Linked DNA regions of Homo sapiens: regions 1 and 2 are each linked to region 3. The links come from fine-mapping of genetic effects on gene expression. A gene starts in region 3. Each other region holds a variant in brackets. All regions are shown on one strand. Distances are between the middles of the regions. Region 1 overlaps UTP6 (UTP6 small subunit processome component). Region 2 holds the start of LOC124903979 (a long non-coding RNA gene). Region 3 holds the start of COPRS (coordinator of PRMT5 and differentiation stimulator).

The links.
Region 1: its variant is fine-mapped to the expression of COPRS in whole blood (TOPMed, PIP above 0.99).
Region 2: its variant is fine-mapped to the expression of COPRS in whole blood (TOPMed, PIP 0.94).

The regions. Positions count from the first base shown.
Region 1 is chr17:31,878,644-31,889,273 of GRCh38, reverse strand. It overlaps UTP6 (UTP6 small subunit processome component), which reads left to right. Exons shown (of 19, transcript NM_018428.3): 8 at 1,961-2,038; 9 at 3,213-3,294; 10 at 4,769-4,850; 11 at 8,520-8,701; 12 at 10,493-10,572. Among named protein-coding and RNA genes, the nearest start is that of UTP6, 18 kb to the left of the region's middle. The variant A/G (reference allele first, on the strand shown) is at 6,556.
Region 2 is chr17:32,240,432-32,251,061 of GRCh38, reverse strand. It overlaps LOC124903979 (a long non-coding RNA gene), which reads right to left and starts at 7,578. Exons shown (of 2, transcript XR_007065709.1): 1 at 7,009-7,578. RefSeq lists a silencer at 9,978-10,272. The variant G/A (reference allele first, on the strand shown) is at 4,698.
Region 3 is chr17:31,853,456-31,864,085 of GRCh38, reverse strand. COPRS (coordinator of PRMT5 and differentiation stimulator) reads left to right here and starts at 4,842. Exons shown (of 4, transcript NM_018405.4): 1 at 4,842-4,985; 2 at 7,221-7,287. The coding sequence starts at 4,887. UTP6 (UTP6 small subunit processome component) reads left to right here. Exons shown (of 19, transcript NM_018428.3): 19 at 570-3,182. The coding sequence ends at 727. RefSeq lists a silencer at 4,692-5,121 and an enhancer at 5,181-5,855.

The DNA.
Region 1 (10,630 bases), 25 kb before region 3:
TGCACATAGGATGAGACAGTGATGTTTCAGTTTGGTCCTCTGGAGACATATTTTTTTTTCCTGGATTCAAGCAATTCTTACGCCTCAGCCTCCCGAGTAGCTGGGATTACAGGTGCCCGCCACCATACCTGGCTATTTTTTTTGTATTTTTAGTAGAGGCGGGGTTTTGCCATGTTGGCCAGGCTGGTTTCACTTTTTTTTTTTGAGACAGTCTTGCTCTGTTGCCCAGGCTGGAGTGCAGTGGCACGGTCTCGGCTCACTGCAAGCTCTGCCTCCTGGGTTCACACCATTCTCCTGCCTCAGCCTTCCGAGTAGCTGGGACTACAGGTGCCTGCCACCATGCCTGGCTAAATTTTTGTATTTTTTATTAGGGATGGGGTTTTACCATGTTAGCCAGGATGATCTCGATTTCCTGACCTGGTCATCCGCCCGCCTCCACCTCCCAAAGTGCTGGGATTACAGGCGTGAGCCACTGCGCCCGGCCCATGTATTCTTTATTAAATAAAAAAGGCTTCAATTTATGGAGGCTAGGAATAAGTGTGGAGGTGTGGGTAAGGACAAACATCTTTTTTATTTTTTGAGATGGAGTCTCGTTCTGTTTCCCAGGCTGGAGTGTAGTGGCCCGGTCTTGGCTCATTGCAACCTTTACCTCCTGGGTTCAAGCAATTCTCCTGCCTCAGCCTCCTGAGTAGGTGGGATCCCACGTCCGGCTAATTTTTGTATTTTTAGTAGAGATGGAGTTTCGCCCTGTTGGGCAGGCTGGTCTCAAACTCCCGAACTCAGGTGATCTGCCTGCCTCAGCCTCTGAAAGTGGTGGGATTACAGGTGTGAACCACCATGCCCGGCCAGGGAAAAACATCTTTTTGTAGGTGTTGACACTGCAGCTTCTAAGTTAGTTGAGAGGTTGGAACCCCCGCCTCCTTCCTGTGGTTGGAAGGAATAGGGAACTAGACTCTAACATTTTTTTAGCTGGGAGCCAGATTTAGCCTCTTTATACTTTTGTTTTTATTTTTTTTTCTTGTTCCCTTGGTTCTCCAAAGAAGCCCTCTTCTGGCTTCTTTGCCTTGTCTTCCTCTTTTCTCCATGTTCTTTCTGTCTCCTTTTCTTGAGATAGATACCTGGTAGTACTTCCTTTCTCTCTTCGGGGACTTACTCCCTTATGGATGGTGCCTTAGAACATTTGAGGGCCAAGCTTTAGATAAAATCCCAAATAAGAGAAAGAATGTATTGGAAGCTGCACTGTTTTCTGAGTCATTTGTCAGGATAAAAGAGAAACTGCTATTTAATTCTTTTTTTTTTTTTTTTTTTTTTTGAGATGGAGTCTCACTCTTGTTGCTCAGGCAGGAGTGCAATGGTGTGTTCTTGGCTCACTGCAACCTCCACGCCCGGGGTTCAAACGATTCTCCTGCCTCAGCCCCCGAAGTAGCTGGGATTATAGGTGTGCACCACCATGCCCCGCTAACTTTTGTATTTTTAGTAGAGATGGGGTTTTACCATGTTGGGCAGGCTGGTCTCGAACTCCTGACCTCAAGTGATCCGCCCGCCTGGCCTCCCAAAGTGCTGGGATTACAGGCATGAGCCACCGTGCCCAGCCTGCTATTTAATTCTTAAATGAAAGTTAAGCCTGGGTGTGGTGGCTCATGCCTTTAATCCCAGCACTTTGGGAGGCTGAGGCAGGAGGATCACTTGAGGTCAGTTGTTTCAGGCCAGGCAGCAACGTAGCAAGATCCTGTCTCTACAAAAAATAAAAATAAAAAAATTATCTGAGTGTGATGGAATGCACCTCTAATCCTAGCTACTCAGGAAGCTGAGGCAAGGGGATCACTTGAGTGCAGGAATTCATGGCCGAAATGAGCTGTCATCACCAGTGCACTCCAGCTTGGGTGACAGAGCAAGACCCTGTCTCAAAAAAATTTTAAAAAGCATCTCCAAAGATTTTCAGTTTATTTCTCTTCTGTAGTACTTTAGGATGGAGCTGATGCATGCTGAAAAACTGAGGAAGGAGAAGGAAGAATTTGAAAAAGCCAGTATGGATGTGGTAAGGTTCTAATTATTTTATTCTCACTTGCTAACGATGTATAACATTTTGAGCCTGCTTAGGAGTAAGAGAAAATATTTGGAATATATTTTTCTTTTTTTTTCTTTTTTTTTGAGACGGAGTCTCGGTCTGTCACACAGGCTGGAGTGCAGTGGCACCATCTTGGCTCACTGCAACCTCTGCCTCCGGGTTCAAGCTTTAATGTTTAATGTTGTTACATTTTGAAACTTCCAGATGAGTTAGTGTTACTTATAAATGGACTTAGTTAGGAAAATGAAGCTTTATGCTATAAAAATAGATATTTGGACTAATTAATGTGGTTCTCAAAATTGTTACTTACAGAATAGCCAAATACTATTCTTTAACGCTGTATGATCTCATAAAGTGATATATTAATGGATTCAAGGAGCTTGAGAAAGGTTGTGAAATGTGTGGTTTCCTGGCCTTCTTTCTTTCCCTTTTTATATAATTTTTTATATGACAGAATAATTAAAAGATTTAGAATGTTAGAGCTGAGAAGAAACTTTGCTATTGTCTGTTATTGTGGTTTCCAGCTTAGAACTTTTTTCTCAGACGGAGTGTTGCTCCTTGTCGCCCAGGCTGGAGTGCACTGGCACGATCTTGGCTCACTGCAACCTCCGCCTCCCGGGTTCAAGTGATTCTCCTGCCACAGCCTCCGAAGTAGCTGGGATTACAGGTGCCCGCCACCACTCCCGGCTAATTTTTGTATTTCTAGTAGAGATGGGGTTTTGCCATGTTGGCCAGGCTGGTCATGAACTCCTGATCTCAAGTGATCCGCCTGCCTCGGCTTCCCAAAGTGCTAGGATTATAGGCATGAGTCACCACGCCAGGCCAGGACTTTTTTATTCAAATAAAATGTTACAGAGAAGCGCAAACAAGACATGTAAAATCTGACCTGTTTTGGTCCAAATGGAGAGTGAGGCCTTAAGCCATGTGATCTTGCCACCACTCTTGGAGCCTCAGAGAACACAGTTGGAAGGTCAGTGATCTTGTTCAAGCTGCACACTTTACAAGTGAGGGAACTGGCCCGGAGAGAGAGACATGATTTACCAGTGGTCATATGGCACAGGTAGTCTAGGATTGTTAATTTTCGTCCTAGTGCTTTTCCTCCTTGTACTACCTGTTAAGTTACGTTTGATATAACACTCTTTAGGAGAATCCTGATTATTCTGAAGAAATCCTTAAGGGCGAGTTGGCATGGATCATCTACAAAAATTCTGTAAGCATAATTAAAGGTAGGTATCTTTTGAACATTATTTTTGGTAGGAAAGTGAAACATTCTTTTCTTAATGAAGATCTTTAGCTAGTTTTGAAATTTTCCATTAGAATGTGTATAAAACTCTGTAGGAATAGTGTCCTGTTTCTTTCAGAAAATACTTATTTTTCCTAGGCTATAATTGAACATTTCAGTAACTTATTTATTTTTTGAGATGGAGTCTTGATCTGTTGCCCAGGCTGGAGTGCATTGGCGTGATCTCGGCTCACCACAACCTCTGCTTCCTGGGTTCAAGTGATTCTCCTGCCTCAGCCTCCCAAGTAGCTGGGACTATAGGTGTGTGCCACCCTGCCCAGCTAATTTTTGTATTTTTAGTAGAGACGTAGTTTCACTATGTTGGCTAGGCTGGTCTCGTACTCCTGACCTTGTGACCTGCCCGCCTTGGCCTCCCAAAGTGTTGGGATTACAGGCGTGAGCCACCATGCCTGGCATAAGTCTCTTTTTAAAATTTATATTCTACTCCCATTTTTTTCCCTTAAATTTTAATAGGTTTGGGCCGGGTATGGTGGCTCATGCCTGTAATCCCAGCACTTTGGGAGGCCAAGGCAGGTGGATCACCTGAGGTCAGGAGTTTGCGACCAGCCTGGCCCACATGGTGAAACCCCATTTCTACTAAAAATACAAAAATTAGCTGGGTGTGGTGGTGGGCGCCTGTAATCCCAGCTACTTGGGAGGCCGAGGCAGGAGAATTGCTTGAACCCGGGAGGTGGAGGTTGCAGTGAGCTGAGAGCGCCTGGGCAACAGAGCGAGACTTCATCTCAAAAAAATAAAAATGTCAATAGGTTTTTGGGGAACAGGTTTAGTGGTGATGTCTGAGATTTTGGTGCACCCATCAACGAGCAGTGTATACTGTACCCAGCGTGTACTCATTTATCCTTCCATGTTTTTTTTTTGAGACAGGGTCTTACTCTGTCACCCACGCAGGAGTGCAGTGGTACAATTATGGCTCACTGTAGCCTCGACTTCATGGGCTCAGGTGATTCTCCCATTTCAGCCTCCTGAGTAGCTGGGCATGGACCTCTATGCCTGGCTAGTTTTTGTACTTGTAGTAGAGATGAGGTTTCACCATGTTGTCCGGGCTAGTCTTGAACTCCTGAGCTCAAGTGATCCTCCTGCCTTGGCCTCCCAAAGTGATGGCATAACTGGTGTGAGCCATTGCACCAATCCTCAGTAAGTTCTCATGGAGTAATTAAATCGTGGGGAGTTGAAAATTAGTTCTTTTTTTATGAATACTCCAAAGATTAACAATAGCTTTGCTTGAGTAGGGGGACACTGGGGTGAGGGGACTATGGGATGACTTTTCTTCTATTTTATTCTATTTCTCATTTCAAAAAACAAGAAGATTAACTCCAGTACATGAAAAGAATGCTACTTTTAAAGTAAAGTGATTCTTATTGGCAATAAACTTCCCCTCCCCTGCTTTTTAAATTTAGGTGCAGAATTTCACGTGTCACTGCTTTCGATTGCACAGCTATTTGACTTTGCCAAAGATCTACAAAAAGAGATTTATGATGAGTAAGTAAAGTTAGTAGAAAGGTGAATATATCTATTTCTGATCTTGAGATTAAGGGTTTGAGGTTGGATATTTAGTAGAAGAGAAAGAAGATACCACACTAAATCCCTGGAATAAAAGCTAATATTGGCCGGGTGCAGTGGCTCACACCTGTAATCCCAGCACTTTGGGAGACTGAGGTGGGTGGATCACCAGAGGTCAGGAGTTTGAGACCAGCTTGACCAACATGGTGAAACCCCGTCTCTACTAAAAATACAAAATTAGTTGGGCGTGGTAGTGCATGCCTGTAATCCCAGCTACTTGGGAGGCTGAGCCAGGAGACTCGCTTGAACCTGGGAGGCGGAGGTTGCAGTGAGCCAAGATCCCACAATTGCACTCCAGCCTGGGTGACAAGCAAAACTCCATCTCAAAAAAAAAAAAAAATTAATATCATATTACGTTAAAAAAAAATTTCCTGGCCCAGTGTAGTAGCTCACACTTTGGGATCCCAGTACTTTGGGAGGCCAAGGCAGGTGGATCCCTTGAGCTCAGGGGTTTGAGACCACCCTAGGCAACACGGTGAAACCCTGTCTCTACAAAAAATAAGCTAGGTGTGGTGGTGCATGCCTGTGGTCCTACCTACTCTGGAGGCTGAGGTGGGAAGATCACCTGAGTCTGGGAGGTTGAGGCTGGAGTGAACTGTGATCCTGCCACTCCACTCCTGTCTGGGTCACAGAGTGAGACCGTGTCTCAGAAAAAAAGTATCTTCCTGATTGAGTTCTTTGATTCACTTACTGGGGGAAATAGTTTATTCAATAAAAAAAAAAAATCTAGCCAGGCACGGTGGCTTAAGCCTGTAATCCCGGCACTTTGGGAGGCCGAGATGCATGGATCACCTGAGGTCGAGAGTTTGAGACCAGCCTGACCAACATGGAGAAACCACGTTTCTACTAAAAATACAAAATTAGTCGGGCGTGGTGGCGCATACCTGTAATCCCAGCTACTCGGGAGGCTGAGGCAGGAGAATCACTTGAAGCCGGGAGGTGGAGGTTGCAGTGAGCCAAGATTGTGCCATTGCACTCCAGCCTGGGAAACAAGAGCAAAATTCCATCTCAAAAAAAAAAAAAAAATCTAAAGCTTATATAAAATTCTAAATTCTATTTTCCTGGCATTTATCCATAAAATGAGAGTTATACTCATATGTTTATAGTTGAGTGCTGGTAATTTTATTCTTTTTATTTCTTTATTATATTTTTATTTATTTATGTTTTTAATTATAGAGATGAGGTCTCACTATGTTGCCCAGGTTGATCTTGAATTCCTGAGCTCAAGTGATCCTCCTGCCTTAGCCTCCCAAAGTGCAAGGATTACAGGTGTGAGCCATTACACCTGGCTGGTAATTTTATTCTTTAATGTCTGATTATATGGTTTAACAATTATTTGTAAGCTTCGGCAACATGGCGAGACCTGTTTTTACAAAAAATAACAATAAAATTAGTTGGGTATGGTGACATGTGCCTGTAGTCCCAGCTACTTGCGGGGCTGAGGTGGGAGGATCCCTTGAGCCTGTGAGGTTGAGGCTGCCGTGAGCTGTTATTGCATCACTGCACCCCAGCCTGGGTGACAGAGTGAGACCCTGTCTCAAAAAAAGAAAAAAAAAATATTTTTAGCCTACCTTGTGGGTACTTCCGTTTTTTGGTAACACCTCTTCCTTTGACAGGAGGGGAA[A/G]TGGAACTTGAATCAATCTGTTGTTTGGATATCTTCAGGGTTTTGAGAGAGGAGTAGGTTGTGCTTTTTCTCTATTATTTAGAAAATGAAGAACCCTGGGCTGGGTGTGGTGGCTTACGCCTGTAATCTCAGCACTTCGGGAGGCCGAGGTGGGCGGATCACTTGAGGTCAAGAGATTGAGATCATCCTGGCCAACATGGTGAAACCCCGTCTCTACTAAAAATAGAAAAATCAGCTTGGTGTGATGGCATGCACCTGTAATCCCAGCTACTCAGGAGGCTGAGGCAGGAGAATCGCTTGAACCTGGAAGGTGGAGGTTGCAGTGAGCTGAGATCGTCCCACTGCACTCCATCCTGGTGACAGAGAAGACTCTGTCTCCAAAAAAAAAAAACAGATGCAGTGGCTCATGCCTGTAATCCCAGCACTTGGGAAGGCCGAGGCGGGCGGATCACCTGAGGTCAGGAGTTTGAGACCAGTCTGGCCAACATGGTGAAACCCCGCCTCTACTAAAAATACAAAAATTAGCTGGGTGTGGTGTCACATGCCTGTAATCCCAGGTACTCCGGAGGCTGAGGCAGGAGAATCGCTTGAACCCAGGAGGCGGAGGTTATAGTGAGTTGAGATCGTGCCACTGCACTTCAGCTTGGGCAACAAGAGAGAAACTCTGTCTTAAAACACACACACAAACACACACACACACACAAACGAAAATGAAGAGCTCAGCTATAATAAAGTTCTTTAGGCTGGGCACAGGGGCTGTAATCCCAACACTTTGGGATGGACTATTGCTTGAGCACCCAGGAGTTGGAGACCATCCTGGGCAACATGGCAAAACTCTGTACAATAAAACTACCAAAATTAGCTGGGTATGGTGGCATGCACTTGTAGTACCAGCTACATGGGAGGCTGAGGTGGGAGGATCACCTGAGCCTGGGAGGTGGAGGCTGCAGTGAGCCATGATGGCACCACTGCACTCCAGCCTGGGTGACAGACCCTATCTCAAAAACAAAAAAAAGTTCTTCAGGTCTCTTGGAGTCTTGTGTTGTCACAGATAACTGCTGATTTGACTTTGAGAGCTAACTTGAAAGTTAACATTTGTGAATGATACCTGAAATATTCTGAAACTCAATAAATGTGGGACAGCTCTGGCCAGGTGCAGTGGCTCACACTGTAATCCCACCCAGCACTTTGGGAGCCCAAGGCAGGAGGATCACTTGAGGTCAAGAGTTTGAGACCAGTCTGGCCAACATGGTGAAAACTCATCTCTCCCAAAGAAATACAAAAATTAGCTGGGCGTGGTGGTATGCGTCTGTAATTCCAGCTACTTGGAAGGCTGAGGCAGGAGAATTGCTTGAATCCAGGAGATGGGGGTTGCAGCGAACTGAGATTGTGCCACTGCACTCCAGCCTTGGTGGCAATGAGATTCTGGCTCAAAAAAAAAAAAAAAAAAAGTGAAAAAGTGGGACAATTCTGATCCATTGACAAAATTTCTACAGTTAGTGAACATATTCTGGAGAGCCTGTTGGGAAATATATTTTTTTTTTTTTTGAGACAGAGTCTCGCTCTGTCGCCCATGCTGGAGTGATGCGATCTCGACTCACTGCAACTTCTGCCTCCTGGGTTCAAGCAATTCTCCTGTCTCAGCCTCTCTAGTAGCTGGGACTACAGTCACATGCCATCATGCCTGGCTTATTTTTGTATTTTTAGTAGAGATGGGGTTTCACCATATTGGTCAGGCTGGTCTCGAACTCCCGACCTCAGGTGATCCACCCACCTCAGACTCCCAAAGTGCTGGTCTCCCAGTGGCGTGAGCCACCGGGCCCGGCCTGGGAAATAGTTTTTATGGTACTGCAGTTGTTACAGGGATGTCCTGTGTAGATTTTTTAAGCACAGGTAACTGTTTCTCTGATATTCTGAGTCAGTTTCTTGTTGTGGGATTGATAACAGTAAATTGTATTTTTCAGCCTTCAGGCTCTACACACAGATGATCCTCTCACTTGGGATTATGTGGCAAGGCGAGAATTAGAGATTGAGTCACAGACAGAAGAGCAGCCTACAACGAAACAAGCCAAAGCAGTGGAGGTCGGCCGGAAGGAGGAGAGGTGCTGTGCTGTGTATGAAGAGGCAGTGAAGACTCTGCCAACAGGTGAACTTCACCAAACCATGGTGTGATATAGAAGGAATAGTATCCCTGATTGTGAAACTTAAGCTCCTGTTCCCATTGCCAAAATCAATATTGGGGATGTCTCTGTAACATAGTTTACGATGAGCCTGGCCTTTTTTTTTTTTTTTTATTGGGAGGCAGAGTCTTGTTCTGTCACCCTGGCTGGAGTTCAGTGGCTCGATTTCGGCTCACTGCAACCTCCACCTCCCGGGTTCAAGCAATTCTCCTGCCTCAGCCTCCCAAATAGCTGGGACTACGGGTGCCCGCCACCATGCCCAGCTAATTTTTTTGTATTTTAGTAGAGACGGGGTTTCACTGTGTTGCCCAGACTGGTCTCGAACTCCTGAGCTCAGGCGATCTACTTGCCTTGGTCTCCCAAAGTGCTAGGGTTACAGGATTACAGGCGTGAGCCACCGTGCCTGGGTTTTTTTTGTTTTTTGTTTTTTTTTGAGACAGAGTCTCACTCTGTTGCCCAGGCTGGAGTGCAATGGTGTGATCTCGGCTCACTGCAGCCTCCACCTCCCAGGTTCAAGCGATTGTCCTGCCTCATCCTCCCGAGTAGCTGGGATTACAGGCGTGTGCCACGATGCCTGGCTAATTTTTGTATTTTTAGTACAGACGGAGTTTCACCATGTTGGCCAGGCTGGTCTTGAACTCCTGACCTCAGGTGGTTTGCTCACTTTGGCCTCCTAAAGTGCTGGGATTACACGCATGAGCCACCGCATTTGGCCGTGCCTGGCTTTCTAACTTGGTCTTGGCTTTCTAACTTTTATGACCTTCCTCCATAGTAGTGGTATTTATGTTCATCTATTTTGGGGGAAGCTTAGGAAATAATTTCTAAGATTCTTCAATTATTATTTCTTAATTATCTATGTTTTTTTTTGAGACAGGATCCTGCTGTGTCACCCAGGCTGGAGTGCAGTGGCGCAATTTCAGCTCACTCCAACCTCTGCCTCCTGGGTTGAAGCAATCCTCCCGCCTCAACCCCCTGAGTAGCTGGGTCTACAGGCGCATGCCTCCACGCCAGGCCAATTTTAATGTATTTTTTGTAGAGATGGAGTTTTGCCATGTTGCCCAGGCTGGTCTTGAACTGCTAGAATCAAGTGATCTGCATGCCTCGGCCTCCCAACTTGCTAGGATTACCGACATCCTTAATTATCTTTTTGAGACAGAGTCTCACGCTGTTGCCCAGGCTGGAGTACAGTGACACGATCTCGGGTTACTACAACCTCTTCCTCCCAGGTTTAAGCAATTCTCCTGCCTCAGCCTCCCGAGTAGCTGGGATTACAGGTGCATGCCACCATGCCCCATGGATTTTTGTATTTTTAGTAGAGATGAGGTTTCACCACGTTGGCCAGGCTGGTCTTGAACTCCTGACTTCAGGTGATCAGCCTGCCTCAGCCTCCCAAAGTGATGGGATTACAGATGTGAACCACTGCCTCGCCCTTAATTATCTTTGGAAAGTGATTTAATTTTTATTTTGTAATAATGTAGAATAAAGGCAGAGGGGATATATAACCTGGATAAGGCTTTCAATTTTTATATTTAAGCTGTTACTCAGTTGTTTTCCCCCAATATTTGAGGTGTTTGATTGGCTGTAGTCAGCATAACACTTCTTAAAATCAGGCTGATTTAAACTCTTCTTCAGAGGAGAGTTTTCCCCTTGAAGTAAAGGTGTAGGATGACTGTTTTTTTCCTTATCTTTTAATAACTTTGATGTGATGAATGTTGAACTAAGTGATCTGATCAACACAATCTTTCTGACTTTTCCAGAGGCCATGTGGAAGTGTTACATCACCTTTTGCTTGGAAAGATTTACTAAGAAGTCAAATAGTGGGTTCCTTAGAGGGAAGGTGAGGTTGTTACATGGTTACAGTGGTTGACTAGATAGTGACTGCCTTCTGAAAGAAC
Region 2 (10,630 bases), 390 kb before region 3:
TGTATCATGTTCATGGCAGAAGCTCTGCTCCTTCCCTTGGGAAATGGTCACAAGCATAATCAAAGCTGAAAGGAGCCCTTCTGCCTGTCCCTAAAGGTCTTCACTCACTGGGTACTAACCTCGAACATGGCATCTGCAGACAGAGGGCATGGGTTCAAGTCCCAGTCCTTCTGGTTAGCTAGGTCTGGGACAGGTTCCTTAAACTCCTTGAGTCTTAGTTCTCTTATAATGGGCATGATAGTAATATCTACACCTCTTGGTTATGACAATTAAATGGTATGTGAAAAGGGCTTTGGAAACAGCCCTATAAATGTGCTATTTTTTTTCCTTCTTCTTCTTCTTTTTTTTTTTTGAGATGGAGTTTCACTCTTATTGCCTAGGCTGGAGTGCAATGGTGCGATCTAGGCTCATCGCAACCTCCGCCTCCCAGGTTCAAGCGATTCTCCTGCCTCAGCCTCCTGAGTAGCTGGAATTACAGACATGCGCCACCACACCTGGCTAATTTTGTATTTTTAGTAGAGACGGGGGTTTCTCCATGTCAGTCAGGCTGGTCTCGAACTCCCGACCTCAGGTGATCCGCTTGCCTCAGCCTCCCAAAGTGCTAGGATTACAGGCGTGAGCCACCGCACCCAGTCTATTTTTTTCCTTCTTAATACACTCTCCCACCCACCCCCCTTGGACCAACAGGCTCTCATTTATACACTCAACAAACACTTGAGACATTTTAAGAAAAGAAAACTTCAGACCAATATCCCTCATGAACATAGGTTCAGACATTCTTAAAATGTTGGCAAGTCACCTCTAACATATATGAATAGGATAATACATCGTGACCAAATGGGGTTAATCTCAGCACAGCAAGTTGGTTTAACATTTGTAAATCAATGTTGGCTGGGCGTGGTGGTTCATGCCTGTAATCCTAGCACTTTGGGAGGCTGAGGCAGGGAGACTGCTTGAGCTCAGGAATTTGAGACCAGCCTGGGCAACATTATGAGACCTTATAATGAGATTTTGTTTCTAAAATGTCAGCTAGGCGTTGTGGCACACGCCCATAGTACCAGTTACTTGGGAGATTGAGGTGGGAGGATTGCTTTAGCCTGGGTGATCGAGGCTGCAGTGAGCCGAGATCAAGGCTGCAGTGAGCCATGATTGCACCACTGCACTCCAGCCTGGGAGGCAGGGATCCCATCTAAAACAAAACAGAACCAAAAACTATGTTATTTACCATATTAACAGACTGAAGAAGGAAAACTATACGATAATCTCAATAGATGCAGAAAATCATCTGACAAAATTCAACATTTATTTATGACAGAAACTCTGAGGTGGTTGCTGTCCCAGGAACAGCCTGAAGGTGGGCAAAGGGGGAAGGAGGGAGACCAGTAGAAGCCTAGTCCATCAATCCCAGCTAGAGAAAGATTAGGGAGATAATTGGATCATGACGGTGGTGAGAGGTGGCCACTCTCTGATTATCTTGAAGGTAGGCCCAACAGGATTTGCTAATAGAATGACTGTAGGGAGTGAGGGAAAGAAAGTATCCAATAAGGATGACTCGGATATTTTTGGACTGATCAACTGAAAAGCTAAAGTTGTGGTTAATAATGATGGGGAAGATGGTGGGCATAGCAGATTTTGGTGGAATAGATCAAAAGTTTAATTTTGGACATGTTAAGTTTGAGATATACATTCAGCATCCAAGGTAAGGTGTCTAATAGGCAGAGGATATATAAATCTAAAGATAAAGAGAGAGACCATATTTGGGCTCTAAATTTGGGAGGCTTCAGCATATAGTTGGTGTTTAAATTTAGGAGAGAAATAAAATTACAAAAAATCTGAGAAAAGACAGAAAAAAGGTGTCAAGGACTCAGCCCTGTGTCTCTTCACCATTAAGATATCTGATAGAGGAAGACAATCCAGCAAAGAAGCCCGGAAAATAGTGGCCAGTGAGGCAGAAAGAAAACCAGGAGATTGTGGAGGCCAGAAGCAGACAGTGTTCCGAGGAGAAAGGAAATGTGTCAGATGCTGTTGCTGAGGGTAAGATAATGGCTGAGATCAGATGCTGTTGCTGAGGGTAAGACGATGGCTGAGATCAGATGCTCTTGCTGAGTGGTAAGACGATGGCTGAGAACTGATTGTTGAATTTGGCAATGTGGAGGACATTGGAGACCTTTACAAGAGCAGTTTCGGTATGGTAGGGGAGGTAACAAGCTGGGAGGAGTGGCTCAAGACAGAATAGGAACATCAATCTCTTCAAAAATTCTTCCAAAAAATAGAAAAGGGGAGAACACTTCCCAACTCATTCTGTGAGGCCAGTATTACCATGAAAAGTGTTACTTGGGGCCGGGCACGGTGGCTCACACCTGTAATCCCAGCATCTTGGGAGGCCGAGGCAGGTGGATCACGAGGTCAGGAGATGGAGACCATCCTGGCTAACACAGTGAAACGCTGTCTCTACTAAAAATACGAAAAATTAGCCGGGTGTGGTGGCAGGCGCCTGTAGTCCCAGCTACTCAGGAGGCTGAGGCAGGAGAATGGTGTGAACCAGGGAGGTGGAGCTTGCAGTGAGCCAAGATCACGCCACTGCACTCCAGCCTGGGAGATAGAGTGAGACTCCATCTCAGAAAAAAAAAGAAAAGTGTTACTTGGATAACAAAACTAGACAGAGACATCACAAGAAAACTACACCGGCCGGGCGCGGTGGCTCACGCCTGTAATCCCAGCACTTTGGGAGGCCGAGGCGGGCGGATCACGAGGTCAGGAGATCGAGACCATCCTGGCTAACACGGTGAAACCCCGTCTCTACTAAAAATACAAAAAATTAGCCGGGCGCAGTGGCGGGCGCCTGTAGTCCCAGCTACTTGGGAGGCTGAGGCAGGAGAATGGCGTGAACCCGGAAGGCGGAGCTTGCAGTGAGCGGAGATCGCGCCACAGCACTCCCGCCTGGGCGACAGAACGAGACTCCGTCTCAAAAAAAAAAAAAAAAAAAAAAAGAAAACTACACAATGATACACCTTATGCTATAGATGCAAACATCCTCAACAAAATACAAGCAAACTGAATCTAACAATATATAAAAAGGAGTATATACCATGACCAAATGGGATTTTCCCAGAAATGCAAGATTGGTTCATCATACAAAAATCAATGTAATACACACACTGTATGAATGGAATAAAGGACAAAAAACAAATGATCATTTCAGTAAATGAAAAAAAGCACTTGATAAAATCCAATGTTGCTTCATTATAAATAAAACACTCAACAAACTAGGAAGAGAATTGGTTTAATCTGATAAAAGACATCTATGAAAGACCCACAGCTCAGCCTGGGCAACATGGTGAAACCCTGTCTACTAAAAAATACAAACATTAGCCGGAGGCTGCGTGCGGTGGCTCACCCCTATAATCCCAGCACTTTGGGAGGCCGAGGCGGGCGGATCGCTTGAGGTCAGGAGTTCAAGACCAGCCTGGCCAACATAGCAAAACCCTGTCTCTACTAAAAATACAAAAATTAGCTGGGCATGGTGGCACGTGCCTGTAATCCCAGCTATTTGGGAGGCTGAGACAAGAGAATTGCTTGAACCCGGGAGGGGGAGGTTGCAGTGAGCCGAGATTGCACCACTGTACTGTAGCCTGGATGACACAGCAAGACTTCGTCTCCGAAAAGAAAAAAAAAAAAAAAAACAGAATTAGCCGGGCGTGGTGGTGTGTGCCTGTGATCCCAGACACTTGGGGGCTGGGAGGCTTGCTTGAGCCCAGGAGGAGGAGGTTGCAGTAAACGAAGATCACACCACTGCACTCCAGGCTGGATGACAGAGCAAGACCCTGTCTCAAAAAAAAAAGAGAGAGAGAGAAAAGCCACAGCTAACCGACAACTTACTACTGAAAAGGCTGAATGTTTTCCCCCTAAGATCAAGAACAGAACAAGGATGTCTGCTCTTGTCGTTTGTACTTAACATTGTACTGGGGGGTCTAGGCCGGGCAATTAAAAAAGAAAAATAAATAAAAGACATATACTTTGGAAAGGAAGGAATAAATCTATCTCTAATTGCAGATGACATGATCTTATGTATAGAAAATCCGAGGCCTGGTGTGGTGGCTCACGCCTAATCCCAGCACTTTGGGAGACCAAGGAGGGAGGATCGCTTGAGCCCAGGAGTTGGAGATCAGCCTGGGCAACATGGCAAGACTGTGTTTCCGCCAAAAAAAAAAAAACAAAAAAAAAAAAAAAAAAGGAAAAGAAAGAAAGACTAGCCGGGCACAGTGGTTCACACCTGTAATCCTGGCACTTTGGGAGGCTGAGGCGGGCTGATCACCTGAGGTCGGGAGTTCAAGACCAGCCTGACCAACATGGAGAAACCCTGTCTCTACTAAAAATACAAAAAAACTTAGCCAGGCATGGTGGCACATGCCTGTAATCCCAGCTACTTGGGAGGCTGAGGCAGGAGAATCGCTTGAACCTGGGAGGTGGAGGTTGCGATGAGCCGAGATTGCACCATTGCACTCCAGCCTGGGTAACAAGAGCAAAACTGCAAAAAAGAAAGAAAGAAAGAAAGAATAAAAAAGCTGGGTGTGGTGGCCTGTGCCTGTGGTCCCAGTTACTGGGGAGGCTGAACTGGAAGGATCGTGTGAGCCTGGGAGGCAGAGGTTGCAGTGAGCCGAGATCATGCCACTGTACTGCAGCCTGGGCAACAGAGT[G/A]AAACCCTGTCATAAAAAAAGAAAAGAAAATTGAAAACATATGCCCATACAAAAACTTGTATATGAATGTTTGTAGCAGCATTATTGATAATAATGAAAAGGCGGAAACAACCCAAAATATCCATAATTTTTTTTTTTTTGAGACAGAGTCTTGTTCTGTTGCCCAGGTGATCTCGGCTCACTGCAACCTCCACCTCCTGGGTCCAAGTGATTCTCATGCCTCAGCTTCCCCAGTAGCTAGAATCACAAGCATGCACCACCACACCTGGCTAATTTTGTATTTTTAGTAGAGACAGGGTTTTGCCATGTTGGCCAGGCTGGTCTCGAACTCCAGCCCCAAGTGATCCGCCTGCCTTGGCCTCCCAAAGTGCTGGGATTACAGGCGTGAGTCACCGTGCGGCCCAAATATCCATAAATTGATGAACGATAAACAAAATGTGATATTTCCATACAATGAAACATTACTCATCCATGAAAAGGAATGGAATGCTGATACATGCTGATACAAGGTTCATACAGATGAACCTTGAAAACGTTATGCAATCTGAAAGGAGCTAGTCACAAAGATCCACATATTGTATGATTCCATTGATATAAAATATTTAGAAGAGGCAAATCCGTAGAGACAGAAAGTAGATTAGTGATTACCAGGGGTTCGGAGAAAGGAGGATTGGGGAGTGACTGCTAATGGGTACAGAGTTTCTTTCGGGAGTGATGAAATGAGATAGTGGTGACGGTTGCACAAGTTTGTGACTGTACTAAAAACCACTGAATTGTACATGCTAAAAAGGTGAATTTTATGGAGTGTGAGCTATATCTCAGGTTCTGAAAAGAGACAGAATAGGAGACACTGAGGAAACTCTTTCAAGCAAGCTATAAAGGGAACAGAGAAATGCGGACGAAGAGATTTTTTTTTTCAGATGGGAGAAGTAATGTTTGTTTGTTTGTTTGTTAATAAATCCAGAGGAACACAAATCAAAGATCCAAGAAAGGCAGGGGGAATTGCTGGAGGATGCAGACGACAGAGGCCAGACTCTAATGCGTAAGTGAAGGAGCTGCCTGTGGACAGTTTCTCTGTAGTCACAGAAGGGAAAATATAGCAGATATGTGCAAGTCCAGGTAGGTGGGCATGCACGGGATGAGAACTGGACGAGATTCTCTTCCAAGTGCTCTCCTTCAGAGAGCTTGGTCTGTTTTCCTTCAACATCTTGCTTATAGCCTCCTGTCTCAAAACATGCCTGCCAAGAAAGTACACTTGCTTCCAAGAAAACAAGCAAGAAAGCAAGCAAACCAATCCCCTAAAATCATCTACCCTGATAGTTTTATTCTTTTCTTTTCCTCAAGACAGGGTCTTGCTCTGTCACCCAGGCACAATCATAGCTCACTGCTGGCCCCAATAGCTTTAAAAAGTGAATTCCAACCAGGTGCACAATGGCTTATGCCTGTAATCCCAGCACTTTGGGAGGCTGAGGCAGGAGGACTGCTTTAACTCAGGAATTTGAGCCTGGGCAATCTAGCAAGACCTCACCTCTTCTAAAAATTTTTTAAAATTCGTCAGGTGTGGTGGCATGTGCCTGTAGTCCCAGCTTCTTGGGAGGCTGAGGTGGGAGGAGTGCTTGAGCCTGAGAGGGCGAGGCTGCAGTGAACTATGATCGTGTCACTGTACTCCCTGCTGGGCAAGAGTGAAACCCCACCTCAAAAAAAAAAAAATTCCATCTCAAACTGGTCATTCTAAGTTCTTTCAACAATGTTATTTATTTCTATGTTATTTTAATCTATTTTTGAAATTAAATTTTATTATCAAAGAGTAATACTTGCTCAAATAAAATCCAAAAGGTACAGAAAACAAATCTCTCTCCCACCTGTCCCCAGCCCTCCTCCTTGAGGCCAGTTTATTGTATGTCCTCTGAGAGGTAGTCTATGCATAACTGCATATTTATCCCTCCTCCCTTTTTTATTAATTAATTAATTAATTTATTTATTTTTGAGACAGAGTCTCGCTCTGTTGCCCAGGCCGGAGTGCAGTGTTGCGATCTTGGCTCACCGCAAGCTCCACCTCCCGGGTTCAGGCCATTCTCCTGCCTCAGCCTCCCAAGTAGCTGGGACTACAGGTGCCCGCCACCACATCTGGCTAATTTTTTGTGTTTCTTTAGTAGAGACGGGGTTTCACTGTGTGAGTCAGGATGGTCTCAATCTCCTGACCTTGTGATCCACCCGCCTTGGCCTCCCAAAGTGCTGGGATTACAGGCGTGAGCCACCGCGCCTGGCTCCCTCCTCCCTTTTTAAAACTGCAAATAGTATCCAGACTTACCTAGCGTTCTGCATCATGCTGTTGTCACTGAAGATACATCTTGGAGATTGCTTCATATCAGTACATACAGCACTGACACATTAGTTTTCATAACTGCCATGACATCATAGTCCTAAAACATGTTCACAGAGTCCTTGATACTTCTCCTTTCAAGAGGTGGCTCGATTCCCCTCCCCAAACATGTGTGCTGGACTTAGTGACATGCTTCTATAGAACAGAATATGGCAGAAGCAATGATGTGTGCCCTCTGAGACTAGGTCAAACAAGACAGTGCAGCTTCCTCCTGTTTTCTATGTCTTGGGTCACTTGCTCCAGGGTCAGCCAACTGCCATGTCATTCAAGCAGCGCTGTGAAGAGAGGCCCATGTGGTGAGGAGCTGAGGCCTCCTGCCAATGGCTAATGTGCTATCTTGGAAAGGGATCTCCCAGCCCCAGTCAAGCCTTCAGGTGACTGCAGCCCTGGTTGACAGTCTGAATACAATCTAATTAGTGACCTGGAGCCAGAATCACCCAGCTAAATTGCTCCCAAATTCCTGACCCACAGAGACTGTGAGATAACATGTTTATTTTAAGCTGCCAAGTTTTGGAATAATTTGTCATGCAGCTATATATATGATATATGATATATATGATATATGATATATCATATATCATATATGATATATCATATATTATATATTATATATATAATTTTTATATAATATATATCATAATATTATATATATTATATATATAAAATATATTTTTTTGAGATAGGGTCTTGCTGTGTCACTCAGGCTAGAGAGCAGTGGCACAATCTCAACTCACTGCAACCTCTGCTTCCTCAGCTCATGAGATCCTCTCACCTCAGCCCCCTGAGTAGCTGGGACTACAGGCGTGCAGTCCCATACCCGGCTAATTTTTTAACTTTTTGTAGAGATGGATAGAGACCATGTTGCTCAGGCTGGTCTCGAACTCCTGGGCTCAAGTGATCCACCCGCTTTGGCCTCCCAAAGTGCTGGGATTCCAGGTGTGAGCCACCACACCCCGCCAGCAATAGATAATTAAGATGCATGTTTAAGATAAATGTGTCCTATCTCCTCCATCATCCCATTTCAATAGGAAAAGCCCTTGGCCAGCCATAAAGCGTGTCATGAACATGAGGTACAACGCTTCCTATCCCATTTTCTCTCCCCAGCTTTCTGATGGCAACCAGCGCATACCTCTGAGTTTGTTCAAACCTGTTGCTCTCCAGTAACACAGTGTGGTCTGTGGGTCTTTGAGCCAAGTCTGTGCTGGCCCATCTCATATGCTCCCAGTTGATGACTTCCCCCAGAGATGTTGGTGTTTTCATCAGTACTTCCACCAGCAATTCTCTGGGTCGGTGTCAGAACCATGTAATAATAAGTTTTTGAAATGTTCAGGAAGTGAAGTCAGCTAAGAAACAAATTTGGCTTTATGAGCCCTTTCCCATCTCCACTGATCTGGGCAGGCCTCCCTGCAGTGTGGAGAGGACCTGTCAACTATATCCTGAGAATAAAGATTTCTTTTTTTAAAAAAAAATCTCATCTTTTCCCTGGAGTGGAAAGGCAGCTAATAGCATTCAGATATTTTGAGATGAAACTGTTACCATGGGAATGTTTCCATATCTCTCCCTTAATAATGATGGGTAGAAACAATGAACAGTACAGCTCTTAGAATTCTAGAGATAAAGGAAATAAGGGGGGAAAAATGAGAGCTGGAAAAACAGATCCCCCTAAAGGACTGCTTATCTCACTCAGAACTCTGCTCTGGTGCTCTCTAGGTGAATGTGGGGAGTTTGTAGGTCAGCGGTTTTTCTCCAAGGGTCAGGGTTCCCATATAGGAAGGAGATCAGTGATCCTGAGGTGGGTGGGGTGTGATTCTTCAGTAATTGCTGGTAAGGGGGTGAAGCTGGTCTGTCCTTCTGAGGCTCTGTGTGCAGGGTAGGGAGTGGAGGAGGAAAACTGAAGAGCTAACAAATTCAGATGCTTCTAAATACTTCTCCGTCTTTGTCCTGGCAAGAGGTCAAAGCACTTGAGGAACTCCTCCTCCCTAGGGCCTCAGACTGTACCCTGAAAGTAGAAGCATGCTGGCACACATTTTCATCTTGTAGTTCCAGAATTTCCTGTGCTGGACTGTCCTCTACAAGGGCTCAGGGATAATTTCTTAACCAGGAAGGCATCTCCTCCTCCATCCACTGTTTGAAGCACTGTAGGGGTCCCCTCAGGTCATTGTCAGCTGAGCTCCTGTTTCTCTAGGGCTTTGAGAAATCAAAGGACAAATGACTTGTTAATGAGCAAAATAATTTATCTCCTGTGACAGGCATTTTACCTTGTCTGCCATAGCCTCATACTCTCTCTCGGAAGGATTTATTTGCCTTTGTTGTTTTTACTTTTTGAGAAGGGTCATCCAAATAGAGCCATCCTGCCTATAAAATGAATGGGAATCCAACCCATTAGCTGAGAATTTAAGAACTCGTGTTGAATGTGTCAGGATAGGCAGATTGGGTATCCCCTTATTGTAAGCACCCCTTAAATCTCTCAAAGATGAAAGAAATGGATACCATCCCACCAAGCACCCCTGCACACTGTGAACTCACCTAAGGTGAGAACTGCCTGCTCACCGAAATCTTTATCTGTCAATTCCCCGCCTCCACCCCTGACCTAAGTTTGCTTGGAATGTCAGCATCTAGGGATTTCTTTTTGTTCTTGAGATCTTTAGTTAAAATACAACATAAGCAGCACTTGAACTGTTTCTTGGTGGTAGCAGCTGAAAGCTAATCTTTATAGGAATGTAGCTTAAGGAGCAGAAACCGTATTGGGTTGGGTGAACAACTAGAGAACTAAGTGTCTTCTTTCTCTGAAGCATCTACTGAAGCAATACATATGGTTGTCCCTGTCTCTCACACCCTCCGGAACCCGCATTTTCTGTTCTAAAATTTGTGATCCACAAAGAGAAAAGCAGTTTAAACATTTGATCTAGCATAAATATAAGCTCAGCAGAGGGAGCGCGGCAAGAGGTTCTAAACATAGGTGGCTCCACAGCACAGAGAAACCAGCCAGGAGACACCCAGGCAAGCGTCCTTGGCTGACTTCCCAGGTCCCTTGGCTTTGGGCTTTCCATGGTCCTGACCACATAAGGAAGGCTCTCTCTGCCAGTGACAGGCATCTCCCAATTCTTTCTCGCTGACTGCTGCGCTAGTAGGTCCTCTTCATTTGGGCTTGGGAGGTCATTTTTGGCAAACAGTAACTCTCACTCCCAAAACGTGGATCCTAAAATGTGGAAGAATCCTGATGACAATGTAAGATGCTACAGCTGCACCTGGCTGGTGGCAGAGTTATAATCTGGTACATGTTTCAGCTGCCACTTACACATAACAGGTGAGCACAGCGTTCATGCTGCTTGAAATGAACACCTATTCTGTTCCAAGCACATTATTACACAGCATATTTTTTCAAATTCAGCTGTACTTTGACAGTTTTTATAGAAAGTATGTGTCTCAATTTTTACATACCAAACTGGAGGAAATTTATCCAGTGAAGTGATTACTGATCTCCAGCCCCAGAAGCGTGAGGCACACAGGTACCTGAATTCTTTCAGGCCAAATGAAACTAACTAAATAT
Region 3 (10,630 bases):
TGAGTTCATTGAATAAAATAGACTTTTATGATTGATGTGAAGGTTTTCTACTGGGAAAAAAAACAAAAAACAAAAAAACAAAACTGATGAGGCACAGTGGCTCACGCCTGTAATCCCAGCACTTTGGAAGGCCAAGGTAGAAGGATTGCTTGAGCCCAGGAGTTCAAGACTAGCCTGGGCAATATAGTGAAACCCTGTTTCTACAAAAAATAAAAAAATTAGCCTAATATGGTGGTGTGCCTGTGTTCCCAGCTGCCCTGGAGGCTGAGGCAGGAGGGTCACTTGAACTCAGGAGGTTGAGACTGTAGTAAGCCATGTTCCCGCTACTACACTCTAGCCGGGGCAACACAGTGAGACCCTGTCTCAAAAAAGAAAAAAACACACAAAAACAAACCAAAACCTGCCACTATACTTTAAAGAAGCTAAGAGAGGTATTGTTAAACAAAGCGTCCTAGGGAAGTAACAATGAGAAGTTAAGTTTCTTAGAAATCTTGAGTTGAATTGATATTTAATAAGGTTACCTAATAACACTCTGTCAGTTATCTAATTGTATGTTTTTTTTTTAAAAGATCTTTGGATGGATTATATGAAAGAAGAATTGAACCACCCCCTTGGTAGACCTGAGAACTGTGGACAGATCTACTGGCGAGCGATGAAAATGTTGCAGGGAGAGTCAGCAGAGGCATTTGTAGCTAAACATGCTATGCATCAGACTGGCCATTTATGAAGATGAAGAATACAGTCAGCTTTGTGAAATAGTATTGCAAGCAAGCCCCGTGGGCAAATTTGTATTGAGTCCATCTGTAATTTGCTCAGTGATGGCAGACAAGATGGCTGTCTGGTTTTGAGACACACTTTAATTTTATGTTAACTTGTTAAATCTTTTTAAAAATTAAAAAATTTTTATGATTGAGACTGGGTCTTGCTCTGTTGCCCTGGCTGGTCTTGAACTCCTGGACTCAAGTGACCTTCTCACCTCAGACTCCTGAGTAGCTGGGATTATAGGTGCATGACACTGCTCAGTTTGATGTGCTAATCTGATTCCAGTAAAGAGAATTGCTGATTTAATGTTGAGGCCCGATCTTCCACAGGTCCTAAATGTTTCCCAAAATACATGGATAGCATACGACTGGGTTTTTTTAAAATTATCCCAGGTCAAGCATGAGTATCTCTAATCTCGACCTAAGAGCCAGTTAAAATGAAGGAGAAAGTGGCCAGGCATGGTGACTCAACGCCTGTAATCCCAGCACTTTGGGAAGGCTGAGGCAGGCGGATCACCTGAGGTCAGGAGTTTGAGACTAGCCTGGCCAACATGGTGAAACCCCGTCTCTACTAAAAATACAAAAATTAGCCAGGTGTGGTGGTGGGTGCCTGTAATCCCAGCTGCTTGGGAGGCTGAGGCAGGAGAATTGCTTGAACCTGGGAGACGGAGGTTGCAGTGAGCCGAGATCATGCCATTGCTACTCCATCCTGGGTAAGAAGAGCGAAACTCCTTCTCAAGGAAAAAAAAAAAGGAGAAAGTACAGTTTTGTTGGTTTATTCTCATTATAAAAGATACGTGGTATGCATTTGTTCTGGAAAATATGGAGGAAATAGAATAGTGTGGTAAAAAAAAGCATCCTGTCACTGGGAGAAGCTTTCAGTGTAGCTTATTGTTACGTTTCACTTAGTATTGTTTTTCTGTGTCATTAAATAGCCTTAAAAACATTTAATGAATTCGTAACATTACATTGTAAAAATGAGCCATAATATATTTTACTAATCCTCTGGTTAGACTGTCTTTTTTTTTTTGAGATGGAGCCTTGCTCTGTCATCCAGGCTGGAGTGCAGTGGCTCCATCTCGGCTCACTGCAACCTCCACCTCCCGGGTTCAAGTGGTTCTGGCTCAGCCTCCCGAGCAGCTGGGTGGGATTACAGGCACCCGCCACCGCGCCCAGCCAATTTTTGTATTTTTAGTAGTGCGGGGGTTTCATCATATTGGCCAGGCTGGTTGCGAACTCCTGACCTCATGATCCACCCGCCTTGGCCTCCCAAAGTGTTGGGATTACAGGCGTGAACCACTAAGCCTGGCCTGGACTGTCATTTCTAATTTTTTTAAAAATTAGATAAATGCTGTTGATGAAGATTCTTGTCAATCTTTGTTCACATCCCTGGCCATTTCCTTAGGAGATTGACATCCGACAGTGGAATTACTGGATCAAAGGATACTGCTTTTAGAGAATACTGATATGTATTGCTGGTTTGCTCCTTCTTTCAAGCAATACATGAAAGTGTCAGTACCCTTACCTGTACTGGTGTAATTATATCTTTTATTTTTACCATTTTATAGGTGAAATGTGATATGTCATTGTTTTACCATACTTTGATATTAGTGAAGTTAGTGTATTTTATGTTTCTCATCTTTTTACATCCTTAGACTATTTAAAAATTTTTTTTCTTACTAATTTATGAGTTAATTTTTTTTTTTAAATTGGACAAGTTCTTGCTTTGTCACCTAGGCTAGAGTGCAGTGGTGTGATCATGGCTCACTACAGCCTTAACTTCTGGGCTCAAGAGATCCTCCCACCTCAGCCTCTTGAGTAGCTGGGACTGCAGGTGCACACCACCATGCCTGGTTAATTTAAATTTTTTTTTGTAGAGACTGGTCTTGCTATGTTGCCAGGGCTGGTCTCTTAAACAGTTGGGCTCAAACAATCCTCCTACCTCAACCTCCCAAAGTGCTGGTATTATAGGCATGAGCCATTGTGCCTGGCCAGAGTTTTTAAAAACATATTCAGAATATTAATATCTTGTTTCTCATTTGTTGCAAATAATTTTACCCCCAGCCTTGTTTGTGGTGATTTTTTTTTTTTGAGACAGAGTCTTGCTCTGTGGTCCAGGCTGGAGTGCAGTGGTGTGGTCTTACTGCAACCTCTGCCTCCTAGGTTCAAACAGTTCTCCCTGCCAAAGCCTCCCAAGTAGCTGGGATTATAGGCACCTTTTGTGGCGATTTTTGATGCCCAGAGGTATTTTGTGTGTGTATGTGTGATGTCTGTTTTTAAAATGCTTTGGAAGCTCTTCCTGGTGCTGAGAACAACTCTTTTTCCCCAAGCAGTTAATTTTGCCAACACTATTTGGGCAGTTATGTTTCTCTCTGCTGATTTGTGATGTTACCTTTATTATATATTAAATTTCTATGAGTATTAGAGTCTACTTTAGAACATTTTTATTTTAAGCTTTTGTACTGTTTTCTTTTTCTTTCTGGTTTTTTTTTTTTTTAGACCAAGTCTCACTCTGTCGCCCAGGCTGGAGTGCTGTGGGGCAATCTCTGCTCACTGCACCCTCCACCTCCCGGGCTCAAGTGATTCTCCTGCCTCAGCCTCCCGAGTAGCTGGGATTATGGGTGTGTGCCACCACGCCTGGCTAATTTTTGTATTTTTAGTAGAGATGGGGTTTCACCATGTTGGCCAGGATAGCCTTGAACTGACCTCAAGTGATCTGCCTGCCTCGGCCTCCCAAAGTGCTGGAATTACAGGAGTGAGCCACCGCGGCCAGCCCCTGTTTTCTTGTCATTTGTTTTAAAATAAGAAAAAAATTCCTCTTTTTCCTGTCCCTTAAGTCCTGGGATGTTTAACATTCTTAATCTTATTTGGCACTTTAATTTTACGAAAGAGATATGTAGATTAGGGAGCAAAGAGGATAGTGGTAGTCTCCTTAACACAAGGCTATAAGGGTGGTCACCTGGGGTCATCACATCCCTGTATCTGATTCTCAATATTGCAGGTTATGAAAACACATCTAGCTAGTACACCTAGAGTTGCACTGTTAGAAACAGTAGCTCCAAGGCACATGTAGCAATTTAAATTTATTAGAATTATTCAATTTATTCACATTGGCCACATTTCAAGTGCTCAGTAGGTATATGGTTACTATATTGGACAGTACAGATAGTAGAACTTTCATTTCCACTTCCACCATTAAAGAACGTTCTATTGGACATTGCTGACCTAGAGGCAGTTAGCCTTGGGGATACTGACTCCTGTGTAGGAACATCTACATATAGAACAAAAATAATATCGAATATTGTGTGTCAGTTTTATGCTAAATTTTTTCAAATGCCTTTTGTGTTGTACAAACAACACAGTCTTTGAGGGGGATGAAGGAAGAGGGTCTCATGTCCTGATGTTGACGTGATTAGCACACCTTGAGCTGGTTTGTTATTAGAGGTTAGGCACTGTGGGGAAGGCAGGGAAGGCTGTCTTTCCAGTTGGGCTGTTCCCAGCTCAGGCCCTGCCTATCCCCAGAAGCCACCTTTCGAGGCAAAATGGGAAATAATTAGGTTGTCGGTATCAGGCGTTGAGCATGGAAATACAGGAATCCCGAATGTTCAGGATTATTATGAGTAAGCGTCGTGGCCTGTATTCTGTGTCCACTGCATATTGCAGTTTGTGTCTTAATCATCTATCTTGGTTTCTAATGGATTAACTTCAAAGACGATCATTAGCTCAAGGTGGAGGTCACTGGGTTGCTCATGTGTCTTACCCACGCGGGGTTTTGAAGCTGGAGCACACCCCGAGTGGCCGAGTAGGGTACGCTTGGCGTTTCACACGCAGCTAGTCGTGCAGCCTTAGGATATGCACCGAGAGGAGTTTCCAAAATCCGTCTCCGAGATTGTTTCAGATTTCGCGCTGGGAGGGAGGGGCGGGCTCCGCGAGGCCGCGCGCCCCGCCCCCTGCGCCGCCCCGCCCCCGCTTGCTCGTGACACCCCCGCGCCCCGCCCTCTTGGCCGGTACCCACCCCCTCCCCAGGCTGATTGGCGCTTCTGCGGCGGATCCTCGGGCGGGCAGCCGGGCCGGCGCGTCACGTGGCCCACGGCGTCCAGGGCGACCAGCCGCGGGCCGCAGGGCATGGACCTTCAGGCCGCCGGGGCCCAGGCGCAGGGGGCCGCGGAGCCGTCTCGGGGCCCGCCGCTGCCTAGCGCGCGGGGGGCGCCCCCCAGCCCGGAGGTGAGCGCCGCGTGGGGGCCAGGAGCAACAGCCAGCCGCAGCCTGGGGCGGGAAGTCGCGGGGCCGGGCTGGGCGGGGGCCGCGGGGCCGGGGAAGCGCCTCTGGCCGGCCTCGGGCCGCCCCGCGACACGGAGCGCTGTTTGGGCTCGCGCTCGAGCTGAAAACGGCCAGGCCGCGGGGCCGCGGGGCTGCGGGGCGGGGAAAGCCGAGGGCGTGGGTGGGCGCTCTGGGTCAGCAGAGACGGCTGTCCGCCCGCTGGGCGCCGCTGCGGATTTGGTAAATGGGAGGTGACGCTGGTGACCGAGAGCCGGGGCCCGCTGCCAGGAGCCTGGGCGAGGGCCAGGTGAGGGCGGCGAGGAGAGGGACTTGACTTTACAGACCTGTGGACCTCTGTCCGTTGGTGGGGATGCCAGCTAACCCTGAGCCCCAGATGTCACATGCGCGCTCCCCCTTCTCCTTACTGAAACCAGAAAGGCCCTGTTTGACGCAGGGTTTCCAGAAACTTGTTTTCATGTAAGCTAGACAGCTCCTGGTTTTCCCGAGAACGTTACAGACCGTTATTACAGTTCTTACCTGTCCTTGTTTACAGTCTGTACCGGCTAGGTGCTGAGCGGCTTGAAGGTAGGAACCCTCTGTTAGGGCTGTTTGCACAGCCTAGCATAGTGCCTGGCACAGGAGATAGACATACCGACTGGATGAATGATGCCTCAAAGATGGTACTTAGCCAAAGTAAGATATGAAAAATGCAGCGACACTTACAAAGAAAATTACTTTGGAGTGCAGAATAGAATGGGACTAATTTTGTCAGGGCATAGCAGGAAAGGATCAAGGTGAGAGGCTGGTGGTGTCTGCAGAGGCGTGGAGATGAGAAAGTGCAGGGCACATGGCCTGGAGTTGGGTCTCAGAGCATGCAGAGAACTATGCTCAACAGGTTGATGGGAGTGGGAGAAGAGGGGACGTGCGAATGCCATGGCTAATTTTGTGCTCTCTCAGTGGAGGGCTGTTGAAGGTTTTGAGCAGAGTAGTGATTAATTCTGTAAGGCTGGGCCAGATGGCTGGATGGGAAGGTGGTTAGGAGGCCGTGGCAGTGGTTTAGGTGAGAGGTCTGACTTCTCCTTGGGCGGCAGTGACCAGAGGTTGTCACTAACTACAGGGAGTGGAACTGAATTATTAAACCCAGACATGACTAGATAATGAATGCTGATTGGAGCAGGTGCCGAGTACAGTTTAGATGTAGCAGAAAAGATGAATTTAAATTCAAGAAATGTTACATTCTTGCCACATGCCAGGTGTTTTCATAAATGGTGTCTAATCATAAGTCCCCTGCAGGGTCAGAACAGTCACCCCTAATTTCTGGAGAAGAAAACTCAGGCACAGTAATTGAAGTGATGTGTTCAAGGTCACACTCTGAATGGATGGCAGAGCTGGGATCAAAATCAGGTCTTTTATGCAGGCAGGGAACATTTCGTGATTCATTAGAAAGAGGTCTTGGAGGTCATAGGGTTTCAGGAACTTCTGAGTGATGGGAGCAGAGAAGCATTTGGTTGGCTGTGCGGGAAGATTTTCAGTTAGATTAGAAATACTGCCTTCAGTGCTCAGCATTGCAGAGGAATTATAAAGCTTCCCCCACCTCAGTGTGTTGGTGAGGAAACAGAGAATTTGATAGAGTTGTTTACTAGCTATAAAGTTGTTAAGTAACTGAAAAGGTAAAACGTGTACCTGGGGGTGGCAACCGCAGGGAACAGCTACCAACCTATGGCTGAAGGAACAAAGAGATGAAGTTGATTAAAATTTAAAAGCTTAGGGAAAAGGCTCTGCAGAGCTGAAATTCCAACCTTTAAGGAGAAGGCACTGCCCCAGCTGATGGTAGGGGGTCTCTGAGCTTGGAGGAGAGTCCTGAGACCCAGACCTCTAAAGAGAAGGTGCAGTGATAAGACTGGCTCTGCAAGAGTTCGCAGAACTGTATACTGGATTCTGTGGCCACTATAGGAAGGCATTCCTGCTGCCACGGTGAAGTGTCATGAGGTGATGCCTACATGAATAGGAAGGAACAAGGCCCATCTCCCTCCAGCCTTGCTCAGTTTAACAGGGCAAAGTAGAAATGTGGGTGGCAGAGTCCCAGCCCTGCATCACCAAGGGGAGTATGGAAGAGTGGGTGGGGTTGAGATGCAATAGCTGAATACTGGGCATACCCCAGATACCCAAGTCCTTGGTAATCATTTCTTCTTCCTGCAGGCTGGCTTTGCTACAGCTGACCACTCCAGTCAGGAGAGAGAGACTGAGAAGGCTATGGATCGACTAGGCAAGTAGATGGCAGAGACGGAAGTTGGGGAGACCAAGGATGTGAGGAGAGGAATAGTCCCTCTGTCTCATTTACCTTCTCTTTTAGCCAGTCCTCTCTGCTGCTTAGTGGCCTTCTCTGCCCAGTTGAACAGTAACCTCCTTTGGAAGCCTTGCTTGGAGCTTCCTTAAGGGAAGTCCTGAACTTTTCTTATGTTCAAATCCATCCTTCTACCGAGAGAAACAGCTTGAAACGGTGAAAATAGTACAGCAGTCTCACCTTATTCCTAGGGGATACATTCTAAGACCCCCCCGCCCCAATGGATGCCTGAAACTGCTTTTTTTTCCTCCTATATATACTATTTCTGATATGGTTTAACTTATAAATTATGCATATGTGATTAATAACAATAGTAATATAGAACAATTATGCCAGTATACTGAAAGTTACGTGAATGTGTTCTCTCTCAAAATATCTTTTTTTTTTGAAACGGAGTCTCGCTGTGTCACCAGGCTGGAGTACAGTGGCACGATGTCAGCTCACCGCAACCTCCGCTTCCCAGGTTAAAGCAATTCTCCTGCCTCAGCCTCCCGAGTAGCTGGAACTACAGGCACGCGCCACCACACCCAGCTAACTTTTGTATTTTTAGTAGCTATGGGGTTTTACTATGTTGGCCAGGCTGGTCTCGAACTCCTGATCTCAAGTGATCTGCCCACCTAGGCCTCCCAAAGTGCTGGGATTACTGTGAGCCCACGCTCCCAAAGTGCTGGGATTACAAAGGCATGAGCCACTGTGCCCAGCCCCCTGCCGTTTTTTTTTTTTTTTGAGAGGGAGTTTTGCTCTTGTTGCCCAGGCTGGAGTGCAATGGCACAATCTTGGCTCACTGCAACCTCTGCCTCCTGGATTCAAGCATTCTCCTACCTCAGCCTCCCAAGTAGCTGGATTACAGGCATATGCCACCATGCCCAGCTAATTTTTGTATTTTTAGTAGAGATGGGGTTTCACCATGTTAGCCAGGCTGGTCTCGAACTCCTGACCTCACCTGATCCATCTGCCTCAGCCTCTCAGAGTGCTGGGATTACAGGTGTGAGCTACCACGCTTGGCCCCTTTTTTTCTTTTTCTTTTTTTTTTTTGAGATGGAGTCTCACTCTGTCACCCAGGCTGGAGTGCAGTGTCGCAATCTTGGCTCACTGCAACCTCTGTCTCCCGGGTTCAAGTGATTCTCGTGCCTCAGCCTCCTGAGTAGCTGGGATTACAGGCGTGCACCATATCGCCTGGCTAATTTTTGTATTTATTTATTTATTTATTTATTTATTTTTTGAGACGGAGTCTCGCTCTGTCTCCCAGGCAGTGGCACTATCTCGGCTCACTGCAAACTCTGCCCCCTGGGTTCACACCATTCTCCTGCCTCAGCCTCCCGAGTAGCTGGGACCACAGGCACCCGCCACCACGCCTGGCTAATTTTTTGTGTTTTTAGTAGAGATAGGATTTTACCTTGTTAGGATGGTCTCGATCTCCTGACCTCGTGATCTGCCCTCCTTGGCCACCCAAAGTGCTGGGATTACAGGCGTGAGCCACTGCTCCCGGCCTAATTTTTGTATTTTTAGTGGAGAGGGGCTTTCACCATGTTGGCCAGGCTGGTCTCAAACTCCTGACCTCAGGTGATCCGCCCACCTCGGCCTCCCAAAGTGCTGGGATTACAGGCATGAGCCACCGTGCCTGGCCTTTTTTTTTCTTTTAACTCTCACAACAACCCTATCTTCATTTTACAGATGTGGAAGTTGAGGCACAGAACAGTTAAATAAAAACAATTTAAAAATTGTGGTAAAAGATGCATAACCTAAATTTACCATGTAACCATTTTAACGCATATAATTCAGTAGCCTTTTAGCACAATGGCAGTGTTGTGCAACCATCACCACTACCTAGTTCCAGAATCTTTTCATCACCCTAAAAGGAAACCCTGTGCTCACCAAGTAGTCATTCTCCATTCCTTCCTTCTCTGAGCTCTTGGCAACCACTAATTTGCTTTCTGTCTCTGTGGGTTTATCTGTTCTGGATAGGCAAATGTGAGTTGCCTGTAAAGGGAATCATAACAATATGTGGCCTTTTGTGTCTGGCTTCTTCCACTTAGCGTATTTTCAAGGTGCATCCATGCCGTAGCATGTATCAGCACTGCATTCCTTTTTATGGCTGAATAATTCCATCATATGCATATACCACATTTTGTTTTTCCATTCATCCATTGATGGACATTTGATGTTGTGTCTACCTTTTGGTGATTGTAAATAGTGCTGCTGTGAGTATCCTTGTTTTATTTGAACAGCTGTTTTCAGTTCTTTTGGGTATATGTTTAGGACTGGGATTGCTGGGTCATATGGTAATTCTATATTTATGTTATGGAACTAGTTAAGTAAATTTCAGCTCAATCACACTTTTTTTTTTTTTTTTTTTTTTTTTTTTGGAGACAGGGTCTCACTCTGTGCAATGGCACGATCTTGGCTCACTGCAGCCTCCACCTCCCAGGTTCAAGCGATCCTCCCACCTCAGCCTCTTGAGTAGCTGGGATTACAGGTGCATGCCACTGCACCCAGCTAAATTTTTTGAATTTTTTGTAGAGACAGGGTTTGCGACATTGTTCAGGCTGGCCTTGAACTCCTGAGCTCAAGCAGTCCACCCACCTTGGCCTCCCAAAGTGCTAGGTTTACAAGGGTGAGCTACCGTGCCCGGCCCAGTCCGATGTTTGGTAATTGACAAAACACGGATTTGAAATCAGACAGTCTGGCTTTAGACCCCTTGCTCTGAACTATCACTTTATTGCTTATCACTGTTACTGTTGTTCCAGTATTAAGAGCATGGCTGTTTTAGGCTGATTGCCTTCTCTCCTGGGACCTGGCATCACCAAAGCACTATGTGCTCGGAAATCCATTATCTTTCCCCAGTCTTTCCTCCGTTATTGTGAGGCCTTTTGAAAATGTACCTTCCGGCCTCCCTGATGTCAGAGGGAGGCACTAGGTGCTGCCCATTGTGATTAGATGGGTTCTGGTCTTCTGCCTGCAGTGCCCCTGCTCCCCTTTGTCCCTGTGCTCACCTCTAACATGCTCTTTGAGGCTGAAGGGAGGAATAAAAGAGCAAAAACAACCGGGCACAGTGGCTTACGCCTGTAATCCCAGCACTTTGGGAGGCCGAGGCGGGTGGATCACAAGGTCAGGGGTTCAAGACCAGCCTGGCCAAGATGGTGAAACCCCGTCTCTACTAAAAATACAAAAAAATTAGCTGGGCGTGGTGGCGGGCGCTTGTAATCCCAGCTGCTCAGGAGGCTGAGGCAGAGAATTGCTTGAACCTGGGAGGTAGAGGTTGCAG